Regions from separate parts of the Homo sapiens genome. Here regions 1 and 2 are each linked to region 3. Evidence: fine-mapped expression QTL. A gene starts in region 3. Each other region holds a variant in brackets. All regions are shown on one strand. Distances are from middle to middle.

Region 1 (7,363 bases), 64 kb after region 3:
GTTGGAAAAGCGCCGTATTAGGGTGGGAGTGACCCAATTTTCCAGGTGCCATCTGTCACCCCTTTCTTTGACTAGGAAAGGGAACTCCCTGACCCCTTGTGCTTCCCGAGTAAGGCAATACCTCACCCTGCTTCAGCTTACACATTGTGCGCTGCACCCACTGTCCTGCACCCAGTGTCTGGCACTCCCTAGTGAGATGAACCCGGTACCTCAGATGGAAATGCAGAAATCATCCATCTTCTGCATCGCCCACGCTGGGAGCTGTAGACCGGAGCTGTTCCTATTCGGCCATCTTGGCTCCACCACCACCTCCCCCCCATTTTAACCATTTTTAAGTGCATAGTTCAGTGTCACTAAATACAGTCACCTGATTGTACAACCATCACCACCATCCATCATCTCTAGAAGTTTTTCTTTTTTGATTTCCCAGACTGAAACTCTGCATTCTTTAAGCAATAGCCCTTCCTTAATCTCTTCTCCCAGTAACTGGGAAGCATCATTCTACTTTTGGTTTCTATGAATATTACATGCTAGATATCTCATATAAGTGGAATCAGGCAGTATTAGTTTTTTGTATCCAGCTTCTTTCACTTAGCATTATGTCAAAGTCCATCCATGTTGTAACATGCATCAGAATGTCCCTTTTTAAGGCTAAGTAATATTCCACTGTATATCTGTACCACATTTTGTTTATCCATTCCTCTGTCAATGAATGCTTCCACCTTTTGGCTATCATGAATAATGTTACTATGCACATGAATTTGCAAATATCTGTTGAAGTCCCTGCTTTCAAGTCTTGTGGGTTTAAACCCAGAAGTGGACTTGCTGACTCATATGGTAATTCTATGTTTCATTTTTATTTATTTATTTATTTATTTATTTATTTATTTGAGATGGAGTCTGGCTCTGTCACCCAGGCTGGAGTGCAGTGGTGTGATCTTGGCTCACTGCGACCCCCACCTCCCAGGTTCAAGGGGTTCTGCTGCCTCAGCCTCCTGAGTATCTGGGATTATAGGCACACAGCACCATGCCCAGCTAATTTTTGTATTTTTAGTTGAGATGGGGTTTCACCATGTTGGTCAGGCTGGTCTTGAACTCCTGACCTCGTGATCTGGCCACCTTGGTGTCCTAAAGTGCTGGGATTACAAGCATGAGCCACTGAGCCCAGCCTATGTTCCATTTTTTTTTTTTTAATTTAGGAACCGCTGTACTCTTTTCCACCATGACTATACCACTGTAGAATCCACTGGCAATTCACAAGAGTTTCAATTTGGCTACATCCTCACCAACACTTATTATTCCCTGGTTTTTTGATGATTGCCATCTTAATGGGTATGAAGTGGTATCTTATTATGGTTTTGATTTGCTTTTCCTTAGTAATCAGTGATGTTGAGCGTCTTTCATGGGCTTGATGGCAAGTTGTATATCTTTTTTGGGAAAATTTCTATGTAAGTCCTTTGCCTATTTTTTAATTGGGTTGTTTCTTTATTGCTGAGTTGTAGGAGTTCTTTATATATTCTGGATATTGATCCCTTATCAAAGATATTATTTAAAATATTTTCTTCCATTCTGCCGGTTGTCCTCTGATTGCACAAAAGTTTTAAATTTTGATGATGTCCAATTTACTTATTTTTTGTTTTGTTACTTATGCTTTTGGTGTCAGAAAGCTTTTAGTTTATAATTTTAAATATATCACATCTCCTGCCTCATAAGTACCACTGGACAAGGTCCCTTTTATGTACTTAGCTTCTGTTAGAGATAAATGTATTTTGAAGTGGAGAACAAAGATAATTGCAAAATTGGCATGGAGAACTAAGGTAATTATGAAAGTTCCAGATACAAAGAGAGAGGGCTCAATATGCCAGCAGTTCTCTACCAATCCATCCTAGAGGTCTTCTTTTAGGATTGACTAAATAATGCAGGGGATGGGTACAAGACACACAAGTGTTCCAGAAGCATGTAAACAAGGTACAGAGAAGAGGATAAGTTAAAATAAGATGACATAAGAATATTAGGAAAGCCTTGTTCAGAAGATTGCCTACAGAGGCAAAAGGGACAGTTTCATTTTGCTGAGGGAAACAGGGTGGTAAGAACCCTCGTGGGGAAGACCCCTGCTTACCCTGATACAGAGAGAAGGTGTAAAATAACTTAATGGGAGAGCATTAGGCTGAGATAGCTCCCATGGCCTGGGTTCCTACATAGACAAAAGGAACCCGTCAACAACCTGTAAAAAGCTTAGCCCATCAAAAAGTGGCCTGCTGAGTGTTAGCTGTGTAATGAGAGACCTACCACCAGGATAGTTCAAATAATGCAACTGCCCAATTTTTTGCCAATCAAATAATTTCTCTACTCTACTTCTGTATTCACCCTATGAAAGCCTTCCCTACAAACACCTCCAGTAGATCCTCCAGCCACTTTCAGTTTGGAGCTGCCTGATCCATGAATCTCTGTTTGCTCAAATAAACTCTTTTAAATTTTAATATGCTTAAGTTTATCTATTTTTTTTCTGATTTTTAAAAATTGAAATGGGATCTTCCTATGTTGTCCAGACTGGTCTAAAACTCCTGAACTCAAGGGATCCACCTGCCTCAGCCTCCTGAGTAGCTGGAATTATAGACGTGTGCCTCCACACCCAGCTTACATTTATCTTTAAACAAGGGTTTGACCCCTTTCTGAAATATATTTGTGTGAAGACCTGTACCCTCAGTGATATGGCAGGCTCGTTTTAGACCTTCGAGCACTTTTGTCTCTGGACCACAATTTGCCCTTTGTGACCTGCTCTCCTAAAAAATTCAAGTGTAATTCAAGTTAGTTTACCCTCTGCTGATGAGCGGAGGTTGCTCTGGGTGCAAGTTCAAGACAGGCACTCACACCTTCATTCATACCCCAAATCTCAGCATCACGCAATATACCCATGTAATAAACCTGCACAGGTACCCTCCAGAATCTAAAATGAAAGTTGAAATTCCTTAAGATTGTAATTTCATCTTATTAAAAAACAAGGATAAAGTTACTTCTTTCCAATTTTGATATATATTATACTGACATACACACTGTATTCTATGGTGAATTATACTGATTGAATTTCACATTTTAAACTAACACTGAGTTACTTTGAAAAACTCTATTGGGTCATAATGTATTAAGTTTTTAATATATTTTAATACAGTTTGCAAAAATTCTGTTTTAAAATTACATCTATGTTCCATAAATAAATATATAAAAAATAAGAAATGTTTATATTATTCAAGTGAAGATTATAGCGATCTTTTTGAATGTCTACTTAACCTCAACTAGTTTTAAATTCAGAAGTAGCAACTCCATAGAAATTCAACTTATTTCTACCTTATTACTCATACTTGTCTCCTTGAAGAAGCTTCATTGCTATCATCCAGTTTAGACTGGGATGTCATAAATGTCTAGACTGAGTAGTATAATATTCACTGTTCAAATAAAATCAAATTATCATTATAATATTATGGCACCTCCAAATACAAAAAGCAAGCCCATGGATGTTAGGTTAAGGTATAGAGACAAGTATTCCTACTTACTATCTTTTAGGGCAGACATATCCCAGCCAAGGTGATTGCAAAATGAAATGGAAACCATATGGTAGAAGGGGACTTGGGACTCACACGGATTTTCATTCCAACCCTTACATACACAAGCTGCCTGACTCTGGGTTGATTGCATATTCTCTTAGAGTTTCAATTTCCTCGTCTGTACAATGGAGGTTAATGCCTATGGGCTATGGCTGATGTGGGGACAAAAGAACCAACCCTGATGCATGGGCAAGGGCCTGGTCCATAGAACGAGTAGCTGGCATCAACAAATGGAAGCCCCTTCCCAACTTTTCTTTGCGTGCACTACAAAATCTGGAATACGTGGGTATAAAAAGTACTCTAATAAGAGACATAACTGGAAACTTTTGCAAAAAGAGTTTGGAAAGGTGTCACATCTTGTGGCATGAGGAGTTGTGGGCATACACTTGAACTTTGTGCTGTGAGATATCCACAGAACTTCAGTAGCTTAAGACAACAGTTTAGGTGTCATCTTATTCATCTACCATAGAACTTCCTCTTCTTTACTGAGATTTCTAGACGATAACTTTTACAGCTCTAATAATGCAGTTCTCTCCCAGTTGTTTGGACTATTCTAATAGATACAAAGCAGTATTTCACCAGCAGATGCTACTGCAGTTTGTATGATGATTTCAAACTGAGAATCCATTTAAAGTTATGCAATACTTTTTTTGGAAATAGCATGAAAGTACTTTAAGTTTAAAATCTTATAAAATAGGTTTACAGTAAATAATTATTTGTTGCAATGCCTATCATACTATCTTATATTCACACATGTATCAGTCCTAATAAATATGTGTGGTGAGTGAAATTTACTTGAGGGCAGAGACTGTGCCATATGTTCCCTGCACCGCTGATGCCTATCTCAGCTCATGATATACAATAGATGCTCAGTAAATACTTTAACTTAAAAAATGCACTAAGAATAAATCTTATTAGACATCAAAATATGTATGAGTACAATCTAGGGACATGGTCAGGAGCTCAAAATTCAATCTTATTTATTTATTTATTTATTTA[G/TTTAG]AGACAGTGTCTCACTCTGTTGCCAAGGCTGGAGTGCAGTGGTGCGATCTCAGCTTACTGCAACCTTTGTCTCCTGGGTTCAAGCGATTCTCCTGCCTCAGTCTCCAGAGTAGCTGGGATTACAGGTGCACACCAACATGCTAATTTTTTTGTATTTTTAGTAGACACAGGGTTTCACCATGTTGGCCAGGCTGGTCTCAAACTCATGAGCTCAGGCAATCTACCCACCTTGGTCTCCCAAAATGCTGGGATTACAGGTGTCAGCCACCACACACAGCCACAAAATGCTTTAAAGTAGCTTCAAAACCCCTTTGCAAATAGGTGTTTTCATAACAAGATGGAAACAAGAAAACATTGAGCTTCATATAATAGAAGGGTTCTGCCTGGATTTGCATGTGGCCCCATCATTTGTTTGCTGTTGGGCCATGGTCAGGTTACTTAGCTGCTCTCTGCCTCCACATAGGATTTATGCCTGTGCATCCCTCATCTACAAAATGGGAATAATAAGAATATCTAACAGTTAGAAATGGAGAAAATATATGTAAAGGCCTTTGAAAAGAGCTTGTCAAAGCTCAATAATTGTCCTCAATAATTGCTCTCAATAATTGTCAGCTATCGTTCAATAACAATCATAATCATAAAAATATATGACTCAAAGGAAGATTCCTACCTCCTATCCAGCTTCCCAAAAGAATATCAGACATTGGACCTGTGAAAGGAATGACATTGAGATGTATTTTCACATCGCTAAGTTGGTTTTTTCTCTTTGCCATTCGATTTCTGCAGTCCCCACACTAAGCCCATGGTCCACCATTTTATTTTTCCTCCTAAAATGTCTTCCCTTCTCGTAAAATTTACTTTTCCTTAAAAAGGGCCCTTTTCATCCACTCACTCTTTTACCCATCCCAGAAGTTGGTTAATGGGCACAAAAATACAGTTAGATGGAATGAACAGAAGAATTTCTAGTGTTCAATAGCACAGTAGGGTGACGATCATTAACAATAACATATATTTCAAAATGACTAGAGGAAAGATGTGGAATGTTCTCAACACAAATAAATGATAAATGGTTGAGGTGATGGATATGCAAATTATCCTGATTTGATCACTACACATTGTATGCATGTATCAAAATATCACATGTACCCTAGAAATAATTATAATTGTATCAATAAAAACAAAAAGGGCCTATTTCTCTTTCCTTCCTCCCCACATTCCCTCCTATCCCAGATATGTGTTGCTCCTGGGACTCTCCTGCCCCACGTTCAGTCAGCACTGAGCCAGCAGGAAGGATCTCACAGGTCATATCCTGAGATCAACCCTCCACCCCTTCAGGTAATGATCCTCCTGCTCTTAGTCATTTATATCCTTTGGTTCATAGATATTCTGAGTCAAGTGCCTTCTAACCGCTGAGCTACATAATATCCCTTGGTTTTTAAAGATAATACAAAGTGAATTTTAGTAACAATGTTGAGTCATCATAGAAGCTAATGAAGTTGGGGATTCCATGAAGTCATCTAAGCGTATAAAGCCACATTTCCCTGGGTCCCTTTTCCTTAGCTCAAGGCCACAAAAATCAGAACATGAATTCCAGCCCATATTTGCATTATGTCTAAATAATTACGAATTATAAATGAAGTTAAAAAATAGCTAAATATGTTCTATTCTTCTACTTCAATAAATATACCACCGTAATAACCCACAAGGTCGAAGTCGAGTGTAGAATTCTCTGATTCCTTGGTGCTCTGCCAGAGAATGTGGTAGCAAAGGGAGAGCTGATCTTCAGCCCCAGGCTAAACTTTTTTCTTTCATCGTAGCTAGCCCTGTCCTTACTTGAGAAGCCTTGCGTACCCCTGTGTGGGGGACTCCCTAGGCCCCATACAAGCTCCATCCACAATTCTCACCCCTTCAGACAGCAGAGCCTTGGGCACCATTTCAACAAGCACAGTTTTCACTTTGAAATGGACCCAGGGAAGAGGCCATGCAGGCTCAGGTACATTTGGCCAGGGGCCTGAGTGCCCAGCGTGTGCCCTAGAACAGAGGGTGAGAGCTCTGGGTGGGCCGGGTTACAGTCAGTGGAGGGCCAGAGAGGCACCCTCTCAAGCGCAGGATTCAGGGCGGGGGTCCTCTTGCCAAGATCGATGGCTGCGATTCCTCCGTGCAATGACGACTGCGTCAGGTCTTCTCAGCGCACCTTTCATTCAGTCTCAGCCACCGTGGGGAGTTCCATGGAAGCACAGGCTTCCCTTGTGCTGCCAGCAAACTCAAGCTACACTTTCCGCCCCGGGACATCTCCACTATTGTAGGATTTTGCCTAAGCACAAATACAGCCCAGAAACACTTGCAGGTTAACAGCCTCAGGGGAAGACCTCAACCCGTGTGGGACAGGTGGGCAAATGCTCGAGGCTCACGTTTCAGGTGGACAGTCCTGGATAACTTTCCAGAGCCTCTCGGTAGGTCCCGCATAAAAAAAGTCCATGGGAGCAGCCTCAATGGCATTTCATTATTTTGGCTTTTTTTTTCTTGCCTGGCTCACTCTTCCCACATCTCACTCTTGCTTCTTGGAATCACTTCCCAAATAAACCATCCACACCCAAGTCTTTACTCCAGCTCTGCTTTCAGGGGTACAGGCACACCTTGGAGATATTGCAGGTTTGGTTCTAGGTCACCACAATAAGGCGAATATCACAATAGAGCAAGTCACAAGAAATTTTTTGCTTTCTGGTGCATATAAAAGTTATGTTGCCGGGCATGGTGGCTCA
Region 2 (7,363 bases), 52 kb after region 3:
TTTTTCTTTTCTTTCTTTTCTCCTTTTCCTTTTCTTTGCTTGGAGTGTTTTCTAAAAATTTGTCAAAAACTGTAGATGGCAAACAGAGTGACAGAACACAGGTTAAGTGTCCATACATGACAAAGAATACAGGATACAAAAATAGCTTTAGAGGGTTGCAAAACAAGTAAATGACCCCCAAAACTAAGCAATTGTGGAGGGCAGGAATATGTTTTCTGGATATGCTGAATGATTTCTAAAGTGTTCACTGTTCAACAATAAAATACAAGGCATTCAAAAGGACAAAAAAATGGCACCCTCAACGGGAAAATAATGAAAAGAAACTGTACTTCAGGAATCCCAGCCGTGGTATTTACTAGGCAAATATTTTAATTTACTTGACTTCAATGTTCTCAAATACCTAAGAGAAGCCAGGACAACAGTGTTTCAAAAATGGAAAATACCAATAAAGACCTACAAATTATTTTTAAAAATGAAATTCATACCCTGTAACTAGAAAGACTGAAGAGTATGCATGAGCATGCAGGAAGGATAATCAAGGAACTTGAAGACGGATTGTTTGCTATTCAGTCTAAGGAAGGTACAAGAAGAGAAAAACAAGAAAAATGAATAAAACTAAGGTAGCCATGGAACAACATCAAGTATATCAACATATTCATAATGGGAGCCCCACAGGAAAAGGAGACACAGAGATAAAAAAAATAATTTGAAGAAGCAATGGCTGAAACTTCCCAAATGTGCTGATAGATACAAATTTACTTATTCAAGAATCCCAGAAGAAAAAAAATACTCCTAGAAGAATAACCTCAAAGATATCTACACTGGAACACATACACTGAAATTGACAAAAGATAAATTAATAGAGAACTTTAAAAGAAGCAAGACAGAAGTAACTGATCACATGCAAGTTATCCTCAATGACATTAACAGCCAATTTCTCATTAAAATTTATGGAGGAAAGAAGTCACTGGGGTGACATATTTAGAGGGCTGAAAGAAAACATAAATCAGTCATAAACTCAATATCTGGCAAAACCGAACTCAATTTCTCAATTTATGAGTAAGGCATTTCCAAGCAAACAATTAAAGAGAGTACATCACTATTAGATTGGCCTTACAAAATATGATGAAGTAAGGAATGTAAGAACAATACACAGTAACCCATGTGCAAATAAATAAATAAATAACATCAATAAAGTAATTACACCAGGAAATAGAAAAGCCAATACCATTGTATTTGGGGGTTTCTGTGACTTTATTTTTCTACTAGATTTAAAAAGTGGTAAGGCACAGTATTTCACATCTGTAATCCCAACCAAGGTGGGAGGTTTGGTTGAGCCCAGGAGTTTGAGACCAGCCGGGGCAACAAAGTGTGACCCTGTCTCTACAGAAAATAAAATTAGCCAGGTATGGTGGCATGAACCTCTAGCCCCAGCTACAAGGGAGGTGGAAGTGGGAGGATCCCTTGAGGCCAGGAGCTCAAGGCTGTAGTGAACCATGTTTAGCCTGCATGATTGAAACCATGTCTCAGTAAAGTAAAATAAAATAATAAAATAAAGAAATGACATATAATAAGACAAGAATTATATATCTGTGCTGTTAGCACATATTGAATAAGAAGCAATTTTTGACAAAACGTAGGAATGGAGGGACAGCAGTATGGGAAAATATTTTTATATAATGTAAACAGTTGTTATAATTCACACTATATTATTATAAATTTAAGATATTAGTTATAATACCCTTAATGACCACTAAGAAAATAACTGTTAAAATATACTAAAGAGAAATGAGACAGTCAAAATGGTACCCTAGAAAAACAATCAAATGTAAAAATGAGCAGTTTTTGGAGGAATTGAATAACAACCACAACAACAACAAATTTGTAGAAAACAAGGACAAAAATAGCAAAATCTTTCTTATCAGTAATTACCTTAAATGCAGATAAATTAAACTCCAGTTAAAAGTCAAAGATTGACAGAATGACTTTTTACATGTTTTAAAAGGGACGGGAAAATTAATTCAAACAGTAACCAAAATAGAGCTAGAGGTACTATGCAAATATCAAGAATGTTTAATTCATCAAAAAGATATTATCCTTACATATTTACCTAATAAAAGATCCGCAGGATATATGAAACAAAGACAAACAGATTTGAAGAGGTGGACAGTTCTGCAATAATAGTTGGTGATTTCAACATCCCACTTTCAACAGTGGATGAAACAACCAAACAGAGGTTCAATAAGAAAACAAATGTCTTAAACAGCATTATAAACCAAATGAGGCTATTAGACATATACAAAACACTCCACTCCACAAGTGGATTAAATATTCTTCTAAAGGGTTTATAGGTCCAGAATAGTCTTCACGGTAGGCCACAAAGCAAGTCTCATATTTAAAACTATTGAAATCACACATAATGCTTTTTCCAACCACAGTGGAATAAAACTAGAGACTGCCCCCCCTCTTTTTTTTTGAGACGGAGTTTTGCTCTGTCACGCAGGCTGGACTGCAGTGGCACAATGTCAGCTCACTGCAACCTCTGCCTTCCATGTTCAAGTGATTCTACTGCCTCAGCCTCCCAAGTAGCTGAGACTACAGGTGCCCACCACCACACCTGGCTAATTTTTATAATTTTAGTAGAGATGGAGTTTCACCATATTGATCAGTCTGGTCTTGAACTCCTGACCTCAAGTGATCCATCCCCCTCAGCCTCCCAAAGTGCTGGGATTACACGCACGAGCCACTGTGACCGCCTGAGCCCCATTTTCTAAAAACTGAAAAATGTATAATATTTGGAAACTAAACAATACACTCTTCAACAACCTATGGCTAATTGAAGAATCTGCAAGAAATTAAAGAATCCTTGCAGATAAATGGAAAATTAAAGCATATTGAAACTTCTGGGATGCAGCAAAATCAATACTGAGAAATATATAGTTGCAAACATAGACACATAAAGAAGAAATGTAAAATTATCAATTCACACACAAGGAAGTAGAAAAAGTGCAAACTAGAGAAGAGTACTTTTACAAAAAAATGACATAGTAAAGGAAGCTGGCATGTTTCCCCACCAACCCTAGCTCCCCCTCCCCCCAAGAACACATACAGGAAACCAAAAACCGATATACATTGCATAGGTTATCACCAGCAATAACTCAGAGCTCAAATATGAGGATGAGGCAGCTCCTAGGGTGACAGAGAAGTGAAGAAACCAGGCAGATGATAAGAAAGTTTGGCTTTTATATTCATGACACTCTTCCCCTAGTCTGCTGGCAACGAAGTGTAAAAAAAAAAAAAAATCCTCTGTCTCATGCTTACTACACTGGATTAAATAAAGTTGAAGTGGACAACACAAGCCACTTTTGATTTCCTGGCAGGAAACCTGTTCCTGTCTTAACCCACAGGAAGCCTTGTGAATGCCTGAAAGAAGAAGAATTCCTGAGGACAACCAGGGACAAGGCAGAAAGGCAGGACTACCACCTCCAGCCTTGATATCTTAGCCATAGGAGATGCCAAACCAGAGTGCCTGTGCAGCAGTACCATGAGGTAGGAGGTATATTTCATAATTTCCCTAGGCACAAACTTATAGCCAGCCTTCCCTCACTGTTAGCATAGCCCCTTCAGGATCTCTCTGATAGGGGACTGGCAGCAATCCTAAGCTTGCTAGAGCTGAGGCAAACCTTGGCTTAAGGCACCATCTACTGTCAAAACAAAGGAACTGACGTAGCTGAAAGCAAGCAAACAAAAACCCACCATAGGTGTGTCTAAAAAAACCTCAACGCAAATATATTCAGTAAAACACAAAATAATACAGAGAAAAGAATGAACTGAATAACTAGTCCTTCAATAAAAAGATATAGATGTATAACCACTAGAAATAATACCGAACAAGGAATCATAATCTTCCCAAATGGACAAAGCACTAAACCATTGACCAGTGCTAAATAATGTGATGGCTATCAGTGAGTTCTCTAATCAAGAATTCAAAATGGCGGTTTTCAGGAAATTCAGATCTCTAAAATGACAGAAAAGGAACTAATAAACTTCTGAGAGAAATTTT[T/A]AAAAATGAAATAATTTAAAAAATCCTGGAACTAAGAAACACATTGGCTGAAGTGAAAAATTCAAGAGACTCTCACCAGCAAAACAGATCAAACAACAAAAAAATCAAATGTGATTTTTAGAGTGAGCTCTAAAACAGGTTATTAGGGCTAGGTATGGTGGCTCACGCCTGTAATCCCAGCACTTTGGGAGGTTGAGGTGGGTGGATCACTTGCAGTCGGGAGTTCAAGACCAGCCTGGACAACATGCTGAAACCCTGTCTCTGCTAAGAATACAAAAATTTAGCTTGGCATAGTGGTGCACACCTGTAATTCCAGCTAGGTATTAGGTCTCCTATAGAATCGGTAATCTTGTCTCATTTGCTAGAAGCACAATTTAGATAAAATATAAAATGGATATAAGCCAGTGAGTTTTATATTACTCTATTGCTTTATTCATGGGTAAATTTTGTCAGGGCTATAAAATCTGCTTGCCTTTATCTATATTTTTAGCATATAGATGAACTGTGTGTGATATATTTCTACCTCTGGATGTTAGTACCAAGTTAATTTTTAATATCACTTAAAAGGGTGCTATCCAAATTGGCTAAGAGATAAATGAGCATTATTGTGAATTACATACTCCTAAAAATCCTAGAAATAGACAATCAAGTTCACATGACTCATGAAAATGTTTAGTAAATGAGATTAGTTTAAAATAGTTTATTGCACACAGCCACAGATTACAAGTTATTGTTATTATTAACTGCAAGAATACATTTGCGGGCCAGGCATGGTGGCTAACGCCTGTAATCCCTGCACTTTGGGAAACCAAGGCAGGTGGATCATCTGAAGTCAGGAGACCAGACCAGCATGGCCAAGATGTTGAAATGCCATCCTTACTAGAAATACAAAAGTCAGCCAGGAAATGTGGTGCACACCTGTAATCCTAGCTACACAGGTGGTTGAGGCAGGACAATTTTTTGATCCCAGGTGGCAGAGGCTGCAGTGAGCTGAGCTCACACCACTGCAATCCAGCCTGGATGACAGAGGGTGACTCTGTCAGAAAAAACAAACAAACAAACAAACAAACAAACAAAAAACACGAAAAAAGGGAATACACTTGATTTGTATACTTATTGGATTTCCTAATGTAGTAATTGAGCTGTGATATACTCACTGGACATTTAAGATTTTATAAAGATTTTTATGACAATAGAGAAATTTCTGCAGTTTAGTAAAAATGCATTTGCATAGAACATAAGTGGAAAGTGGTTTTATAACCAAGTCTTGTCTGAAATATCAAATATGTTTAAGAATGATTTCCATAGAATCAGATATAACCAGGTAGCATTAAGAACTAAAGTTGACCGTGGGGGCAATACTTATAAAGCCTTCATGGAAAAACCAACCTGGTAATTGGTTACAGAGTTCCTAGCCTACAAGATAAGAAAGGTCACTTCTGGGCAAGCTCTGGAACCTCACCATATTTGAAGACTTTGAGAGGAGTGGAATTCAACCAAATCTACAGGTTCTGATAGGGAAGTCGGTGGCAAGTTCCTGGCTTGGCTTCTAGTCCCAAGGCTTCAAAAAATATAATCTGAGACTAGTTACAGAAATTTTCAAAAATGAAACTGGAAAGGCCTCTGTGGCCAGGAAGGTGGGTCACACCTGTAATCGCAGCACTCTCACAGGCTGAGGTGGGAGAGGCACTTGAGCCCAGGAATTCACGACTAGCCTAGACAACATGGTGCAACCCCATATCCAGATACAAACAAACAAACAAAACAAAACACAAAATTAACCAGCCATGATGGTGTGCTCCTATGGTCTCAGTTACTCAGGAGGCTGAGGTGGGAGGACCACTTGAGCCCAGGAGGTTGAGAATGCAGTGAGCCAGACACTGTCTTTCATTTAAAAAGTGTATAATGAATAAATGAAGAAATAAAGAAAGGTGTTTGTGGTCAGTGACCATTCTTATTGCACTCAGGTAAATAATGCCAAAACTAGTAAGGCCAGACTGATTTTCTGAACAAGAGTAAAGAGAAGTACCACAGAGAGAATTTTGTTTCAATGGAAAATTAGAGGACACCCACGTGAGATGTTTTACAAATTTTATTAGTCTACATTTTTCAGTTCTTGTTTTATTCAATATATAGCTACAACTCTGTAAACTAAAATTTCAACATTGTGTCCCCCTTTTCATGGTTTAGCATCACTGAAAACTAAAACTGCCCAATTTTCCCCAAACCTTGTAAGCTGAAGCTGGATAACTAGGTATCAACATTTTATTTTTATTTTTTTTATTATTATTATACTTTAAGTTTTAGGGTACATGTGCACAATGTGCAGGTTTGTTACATATGTATCCATGTGCCATGTTGGTATGCTGCACCCATTAACTCGTCATTTAGCATTAGGTATACCTCCTAATGTTATCCCTCCCCCCTCCCCCCACCCCACAACAGTCCCCGGTGTGTGATGTTCCCCTTCCTGTGTCCCTGTGTTCTCATTGTTCAATTCCCACCTATGAGTGAGAACATGTGGTGTTTGGTTTTTTGTCCTTGCGACAGTTTGCTGAGAATGATGATTTCCAGTTTCATCCATGTCCCTACAAAGGACATGAACTCATCATTTTTTATGGCTGCATAGTATTCCATGGTGTATATGGGCCACATTTTCTTAACCCAGACTATCGTTGTTGGACATCTGGGTTGTTTCCAAGTCTTTGCTATTGTGAATACTGCCGCAATAAACATACATGTGCATGTGTCTTTATAGCAGTGTGATTTATAGTCCTTTGTGTATATACCCACTAATGGGATGGCTGGGTCAAATGGTATTTCTAGTTCTAGATCCCTGAGGAATCGCCACACTGACTTCCACAATGGTTGAACTAGTTTACAGTCCCACCAACAGTGTAAAAATGTTCCTATTTCTCCACATCCTCTCCAGCACCTGTTGTTTCCTGACTTTTTAATGATTGCCATTCTAACTGGTGTGAGATGGTATCTCATTGTGGTTTTGATTTGCATTTCTCTGATGGCCAGTGATGATGAGCATTTTTTCATGTGTTTTTTGGCTACATAAATGTCTTCTTTTGAGAAGTGTCTGTCTGTTCATGTCCTTTGCCCACTTTTTGATGGGATTGTTTGTTTTTTTCTTGTAAATTTGTTTGAGTTCTTTGTAGATTCTGGATATTAGCCCTTTGTCAGATGAGTAGGTTGCAAAAATTTTCTCCCATTTTGTAGGTTGCCTGTTCACTCTGATGGTAGTTTCTTTTGCTGTGCAGAAGCTCTTTAGTTTAATTAGATCCCATTTGT
Region 3 (7,363 bases):
TGAAGGGATTTGTTCAGTTATGCTGGGGATATAGGCTCAGAATCTAGAAAGTATTAAATGCCAACAAAAGAATTTAAATCAGATTTTGGATGGAGCATGAAACCAGTGTGATGAAAATGTGCATTTAGAGGCCGGGTGTCATGGCTCAAGCCTGTAATCCCAGCACTTTTGGAGGCTGAGGTGGGTGGGTCACCTGAGGTGAGGAGTTCAAGACCAGCCTGGCTAACATGGTGAAACCCCATCTCTACTAAACATACAAAATTTTGCACGGTGTGGGTGCACATCTAATCCTACCTACTCAGGAGGTTAAGGCACAGAATTGCTTGAACTCAGAGGTTGAGGATGCAGTGAGCTGAGATTATGCCACTGCACTCCAACCTGGGCAACACAGCAAGACTCTGTCTCAAAAGAAAAGAAGGAAAATGTGCATTAGAAAACATGAAAGGTGGACTCTTACAGGAAGTAATTAAAGCCACAAGCTTTGATGGAAGATCAAAAAGGTCTATTGATAATGCCAGCTATAAAATTCTACCATGTGCCTACAGTGATACAATCCATGAGTAAAATATGTGAAGTTTATTGCGCAAGTGAGGACACAAATAATTGTGATCATGGTTACTGAGCTCGCTAGGTATGAATTGTAATGAAGAAAATCTTTGCCAACTAAAATCCAAGTTTAAAATAACTGAGAAAAAGTGAGAAAATACTGAAGTATATAGTGTGTGTTAATGTTTCTCTAGATTTTCTGTGTGTGCGTGTGTGTGTGCATATCTATTCTTTTTGTGCCATTGTAATTTAGGCCCTCATTTGATTTATGCCAGACTACTTGAGAAGTCAGTTATTACTCTTTTCTAACTCCAATTCCTTCTTTTTCCCTTGCCTGCTGCCATGGTTTTGATATATAAACATATGTATGTGAATTAGCCAACGTTGACTGTGGACTTAGAAACCATAAAATCGTGAGTGTGCACCCTCATGGCGGGATTGATAGCATTATCTGGCGAACAGGCTAGTTATTGTGTGAGTGGGCTTTGGAACCAAGGATGAGTTTGGCCCTGATTTTCTGTTTATCACATGTCCTTTACCGTAGGATGGCCTCCTGCCATGTTGCAACATAGAAAGAAGATCTCACCAGATGCAGCCCCTTGGACTTTCCAGCCTTCAGAATAATGAGCAAAATAAGTCACCTTACAAATTACCCAGTCAGTGGTATTGTGTTGTCGCAGCAGCAAATGGACTAAAACACTCTATTATTTCTTCCTCTTTAGATAATTAAATAAACTAGCTTACAAAGGGCCATGTCAAATTTCCCATCAAATGATAAAAAAGCACATATTTTTTTTTAAATGCGGTACAGTAGCCTGCCACTAAAACAAAGCCCCATTTTACTCCTAACTGTATTTTTAGAAATAAAGGAAAAGCAACCATAAAGGTCAACATGTAATTTTATTGTTCAGTAAGATTATTGCAGGAATTTTTAATGTTCTTGTCAACATAAATTTCAGTCTCTGTTGTCATGCATAATCTGGTACTCTTTTGGTGGAAGATCAGTTGTAACTAGGGTGATATTTTTCCAGTAAAGATGGTTGAAGAGCTGGCCTGTAACGAAAGGCAACTGATGTATCAGCTGTCGCAGTCATTTACAACCACAGGTTGCCTGCTGGTAGCAGGTTAGAATGAGGAGCCTCATTGGCTAATACCTCAGGATATCTGGTGGGAAAAAGTAGGTGGTTTCACTATCAGCCCCAAAGGAGGGAGATATGATGTAGTATTGAGAAGCTGTGGTTGTAACAAAATTCACAACGTGGCCATTTGCTTACATGTCGGTGCTATGAGAGTGCATATGAATATTTGTCAATTGATTTAAAATAGCATGTTGATTTGTTGTAATTTGTTCTGATTGTCCAACTGAGGTTGAAATGGAAGAGGAGGGAAACCACTTCTAATTGGGTCAGGTGAACCAGCAATGCCCTGGCTGACAGAAGATTTCCTTGTTAGAGTCATATTTAAATTTGTAGATGTTGAAAATGAACTTTCTTCACTAGTTTCAGCAGCTAAGACAGAATTATGTTTATCTGTGTTAGCCCCTGCTCTAAAGTGTTTCTTGAAATATTCAGTGAAGTAGATACAAGAGAAGTGTTTTTAATCTTAATTCTTCTTTTCGTTCTTATTAAAAGTTGGGGACAGCCACGTTTGAAATTCGGATGATAATACAACTTTAACTAAAACCAAGGAGAAGGTAATTCAGTGCCATTTTAAACCAAGAGGCAAGTAACAATAACAAACATAACCCATACAATCTCAGATTTCTGTTTTATCACACAAAGTTAATATCATCAAATAATGAATGAACATTGTTTACTATTTTTAAGAACATGCTTGTTGAGAAAAAAAAACACTCAAGTTTTGAAGCCCTCTGGTGAAAACATGTTATACATTTAATAGTAACATTTCACTAAGTGGCTTTGGTATCTTTATTTGGAGTTCACTGGTAAGACTGAATGTTGTTAGCAACATTTCTTAAAACCTGAAAGTTTAATGCTCAACCTGCACTCAATAATTTCAAAAAAATTAAGTAATTTTTACCTTAATATTTGATATAATTTTTAAAATCTGATCTTACTGCATGTATTAACATAGTTACTGATATATAAAATGAAATTACATATATACTCAAAGTGGTAACTGAAATATTTTGAATACCTTGCTTAAAACAGAAATTTCTTTTTCTTCTGCCAGAAAGTTGGCTAGAAAAGCAGATCTGTGAAAATTCTGTTGAATTTTACTAAATCCATAAAGGTTGAGCTGTCAAATTAAGATTTTCATACTGTCAGTTTGAAATATTCTGTAAGGAGCCTTTATTTCCAAATTTTCTTTCTTGAAGAGTTCTTCATTAGTCACTATGCAAGTTTCATTCTTATCCTATGAATTAGACTTGAATTGGTCACTTTCAGCTATTTTCCAAAGTTTACTGGGAAAGGTCAGAGAAGGAAAATCATTATCTTTATCTGGCTCAGAGACATAAAGTATAATGTGGCCTTTTTATCAAGGATCCTTGTGGCAAAACCTGAAAATCATTGATTCAGTCATTGACCTTAAGTCTGAATCCCCAGGGATTATGTGTTCACACAATGGAGACCCAGAGGAGGCTTTTGAACCAGTTGATTCATCTTTAGGAGAAACATCTTGAGTTTCTGCAGAAACATGTGCCATCTCAAATAAGTAATTCTTTAGCGACTTTTCCAGCCTGCATGTGTTTCAAGACTGCAGCTTCAAATGCTGCTTCAGTAGTCTACTCAGGTAAAGTAATTGAGATCACCACAGTGGTTTCCAACCTGAGTAGCAATGGCATCACAAGAGGACTTTGGTCACCTAGCAACAAACATAAAAATTTGGCCAAGACTGTTTACTTTCCAGTCTCAGAAATGTATCTGGTAAAAATAAAATATAGAATGATTACTTACACAGTTTATTCTGCAAAAGTTTCATGCCTGCAGAATCTTTTAAATTAATAAGGAGGGCCAGGCATGGTGGCTCATGCCTGCAATCCCAGCGCTTTGGGAGGCCGGGACAGGCGGATCATGAGGTCATGAGTTCGAGACCAGCCTGACCACCATGGTGACACCCTGTCTCTACTAAAAATACAAAAATTAGCCAGGTGTGGTCCATGTGCCTGTAGTCCCAGGTCTCGGGAGGCTGAGGCAGAAGAATCGTTTGAACCCAGGAGGCGGAAGCTGCAGTGAGCTGAGATTGTGCCACTGCACTCCAGCCTGGGCAACAGAGCAAGACTCTGTCTTAAGAAAATAATAAATAAATAAATAAATAAATAAATAAATAAATTAATTAATATCCTCAATCCCTGAAATAAACATAATTTTCTCCTTGACACACACAGTCTTACTAGATTGGTGCGAGGAGCATAGGGCCTGGTAATTGGACGGTGCAAAAAAATAAAAATAAATATTTTAAAAACTCTCTCAGCTTGGCATGTTGGATTGAAAACTGATGCAGTGTAAAACATATATGGTAAAAAGACATGGCCATATAGACAAAAGGTAGGTTAATGGTTGTCAGGGGCTGGGGAATAGAAAGAACTGTTAAGTAGATAATGGGGTTTCCTGTTTGATGATAGAAATGTTTTAATAATATAATTTTGAATAATGTAATTTTGTATTATGTGAAACATACCTTAAAAAATTAAAATAAAATCAAATATGAATAAAACTGATTAGATTTCAGAATAAAAAGTTATTCATGTATGTATCTATTCAAAACATTTTTTATTCATATCATAGAATAAATAATACTTTCATTTGGTATGTCTGTAAATATCTGACATGTTAATTATGTAAGATTTTAAAAGCAAGTGACCTACTTATAAGGAGATCCCAAAGAGTGGGAGATTTAAAAATGTAATAATAACAAGAAAGTGTTTTAAGTAAAGTAAATTTGTATGTATGTCTAAGCAGAAAATTTTATTATTTGGTTCCAAGAGCCAAATATCTATTTAAAAAATATTTCTTAAGGAATAATCTCTGTGTCCTGCAACGTAAAGTTATCATTATAAAACAGGAGTCAAATTTGTGAATTAATCTTAGAATTGAATAAAATATTTCTTCTCTTTGAAAAATAATCATGCCCCATTTACAGTAAGAATTTTTATATGTTCATGCTTGAGAGGTGGTATATTAAAATTCTAATGCCTTGGCTTTAAGTGTTGAATATGTGTGGAATAAAAAAATAATGATTTTGATATTTCTTATACTGTAGGAGGCAGTTCTCTCATACTGGAAAGAGGTGTCATTGTTAGAAGCTTGTCTTGGTTTAACATAGTTTAAGTTTTGGGGGTGTATTTTGTTTAGTTCAAAATTTTCCATATTAGCAGTAAGTAACAAAAATGTCCAGATCAGAAAACTCTTTGTGAAAATAAAACAGGTGCTCCTACCAGATGTGGTTCATCAATTTTGACAGAATTTTCATTTAAAAAAGGCAAAATTAAAATTTGTTTAATTGTTTGCTTTCTGGGGAATTTTCTTGTTGCTCTGTCTGAAGGAAGTACAGACTTCTTTTGTGATGGGAGGGGATGAATGGCTACTAGACAGCAGCAAAAGATGGGCCATGGGTGCGAAGAGAAGAGGGAGTTAATGGGAGAATCAGAAAAATATCACCTTAAATGTAGGACAATCGAAGTCAAATTGTGGCTGAGCGTTTTGGGGAACTAAGATGTGTGACTCTGTAGGGAGGAAGAATGCCTTGGTGTTTTCAAGGGAAGATGACTCAGCTAGTGCAGTCACCTGACTCCAAACTGCAAGCCTACTTTAGTCATAAAAAGGCAAGAAAATAAGCAATTTTACCTGCAAAGCAAAGGACGTAGTGTTGAAAACGAGACCAGAAATGGTGCTGTTAAAGAGGTGAACAAAAGCATTTACTTTTTGAACGAGTTTCAAAACTGTGAGGGTGGCAAATAGGCAAGGTAAGTAGGAGCAGCCCTCGACCATCTCAGATCAGCTTCTTCAGCCTACCTTGACCTCTGCCTGTCTCAGCTGGGGATCTTAACATAAATCTCTGGATATCAGGGGTGGCTTTTCCCGAGTCTTGAGCCTAGAAACTCCCTCTCTTGATTCTGATTTTCAGAGAAGAGAAGCAGCTGCTTAGCATTTGGGTGGGACAGTGGTTGTTACTAATATATTACAAATTTCAGCATGTTTTTAAACATCAGAAGGAGAAAGTGCTTCGTATTTAAGTGAAATCTCAAAGGGGCAGAAATCTACCATATTTTTTGTTATTCAGATGCAGTGATGCACTGGCTATGTGAGTACAAGAAACAAGTTCACTTAATCACAAACACATGCCTAAATTCCATTGTTCAGTGACTTCACTTTCACTTTCTACCTTGAATTTTAGACTCTGGAAGACCCATTTCTAAACTCTGTGGCCCTTTTCATATGTGCATATTTTCATAAGTGTTTTCCAGAAATAAATTATAGAGGTCCTTCTGTGAGTCCAAAGGAGAAGGAAGTGGTTGGGGCAGCCAGAAAGGTGCAATCTGCATTAATATCATATTCGATGTATGGATTGCTGGGGAGAGAGTGGGATATATTTCTTATAATGTTGGATGTATTTTTCCCCTATCCTGAGGCCCAGAAACTCTGATGTCTCTGCAGTTGTCTTTCCATGCTTTCCTTTATACCCCTCGCCTACTTCTGTAATTTCTCTCTCTACTCTCCCTCCTCCTTCCCACCCTTTTTCTTTCCATTTGTGCTCTCTCCCTCCATTCCTTCTTTTTCCCTTTTCTTTCTTTTTGTGGGTATCTGGTAGCTGCAACTTATTTTCTTTCTGCTTTTCTTACTCACTTACTCTATTTACTAGGTATTTAACAATTGTCTTTAAAAGTAACATCCTTTCTTTCTTAAAATTTTATCCCTAATGGACATTATTTGGGGAAAAACATTTTTATGGTGCCTCTAGATAAGTAATTATATCATCTGCACATGATTCCCGTATTTTCTTACATGCCCGTTCCTCGTAGGTGGAAATGGGTACTTCATTGTACTCTTCTCTCTTTATTTACAAGAGTGTTTTTTCTGTCTCATCCCTTTAAATAACACATTGTCTCTCTTTTTGTGACATTGAATTAATTAGGTCAGATGCGATTTTTCTCATCTATTCATTTGAAGACTGTTTCATATTGCTTCTAGGGCCTATTTGCAAGCAACAAATTATTTTGTTGTTGTTGTTGTTTTGTTTTGTTTTTTAATTTTTGGACCATTTGTCTCATCACTCCAACAAGCAAGAATTAGTTCTCATCATTAAGATCCCTTCAAGATTTCATTCACTTGTTTCAGCAGCCTTGAATTATCATCACCTGGACCTGTTGTTACATCAAGAATCTCTCATTTCTAATGTTCTACTTTGGACACTGTTACCTGTGAGTTTGTTTACATTAAAAAAAAAAAACCTTTTAGTACTTGAGTACCCTAAAGTTTCATATTTTGAATTGGTGTCAGATTTATTATTATTGATCTCTCCATTGCTGGAGAAAACTAAGCAATAGGTAAACTCTATTCTTTTGGTAATTTGTATTTTCTGAATGTTTCACAGTAAATGTTTACTAGTCTTGTGATGCTGCAAATTGGCAATCAGATATATTTTAAAGTGACAAGGTTGCCCTGTTCATCACCAGTTCTGTACATCACGCAGATCAAAAGTAAGGTGTTTAAGTTTATTTTAAATGTTTTTCCCAAAAATTCTGCTTCCACCACTTTTCCAAGCTCTACCAGATGGATACTCAAGAATTGACCAAGGCAATCTCTTCTCTCATATTTCACTGTCAAATACTCTTAATCAGTGAGTCCTGTCAATT

Which allele goes with the higher level. Alleles are on the strand shown, and positions count from the first base shown. SD is a standard deviation of normalised expression in the study named. Not every link is listed here.
For the expression in neutrophils of the gene that starts at base 5,353 in region 3, allele TTTAG in region 1 goes with a higher level than allele G (large effect, 1.3 SD a copy in Naranbhai 2015).

Evidence for each region. PIP is the estimated chance that this variant, and not a neighbour inherited with it, causes the effect.
Region 1: its variant is the best candidate, but not a certain one, in a credible set for the expression of XKR3 in neutrophils (Naranbhai 2015, PIP 0.63).
Region 2: its variant is the best candidate, but not a certain one, in a credible set for the expression of XKR3 in blood mononuclear cells (TOPMed, PIP 0.55).

The regions. Positions count from the first base shown.
Region 1 is chr22:16,759,313-16,766,675 of GRCh38, reverse strand. No RefSeq gene overlaps it. Among named protein-coding and RNA genes, the nearest start is that of LINC01665, 15 kb to the right of the region's middle. The variant G/TTTAG (reference allele first, on the strand shown) is at 4,602.
Region 2 is chr22:16,771,107-16,778,469 of GRCh38, reverse strand. No RefSeq gene overlaps it. Among named protein-coding and RNA genes, the nearest start is that of LINC01665, 26 kb to the right of the region's middle. The variant T/A (reference allele first, on the strand shown) is at 4,064.
Region 3 is chr22:16,823,401-16,830,763 of GRCh38, reverse strand. It overlaps XKR3 (XK related 3), which reads left to right and starts at 5,353. Exons shown (of 4, transcript NM_001386955.1): 1 at 5,353-5,473. It also overlaps the pseudogene HSFY1P1.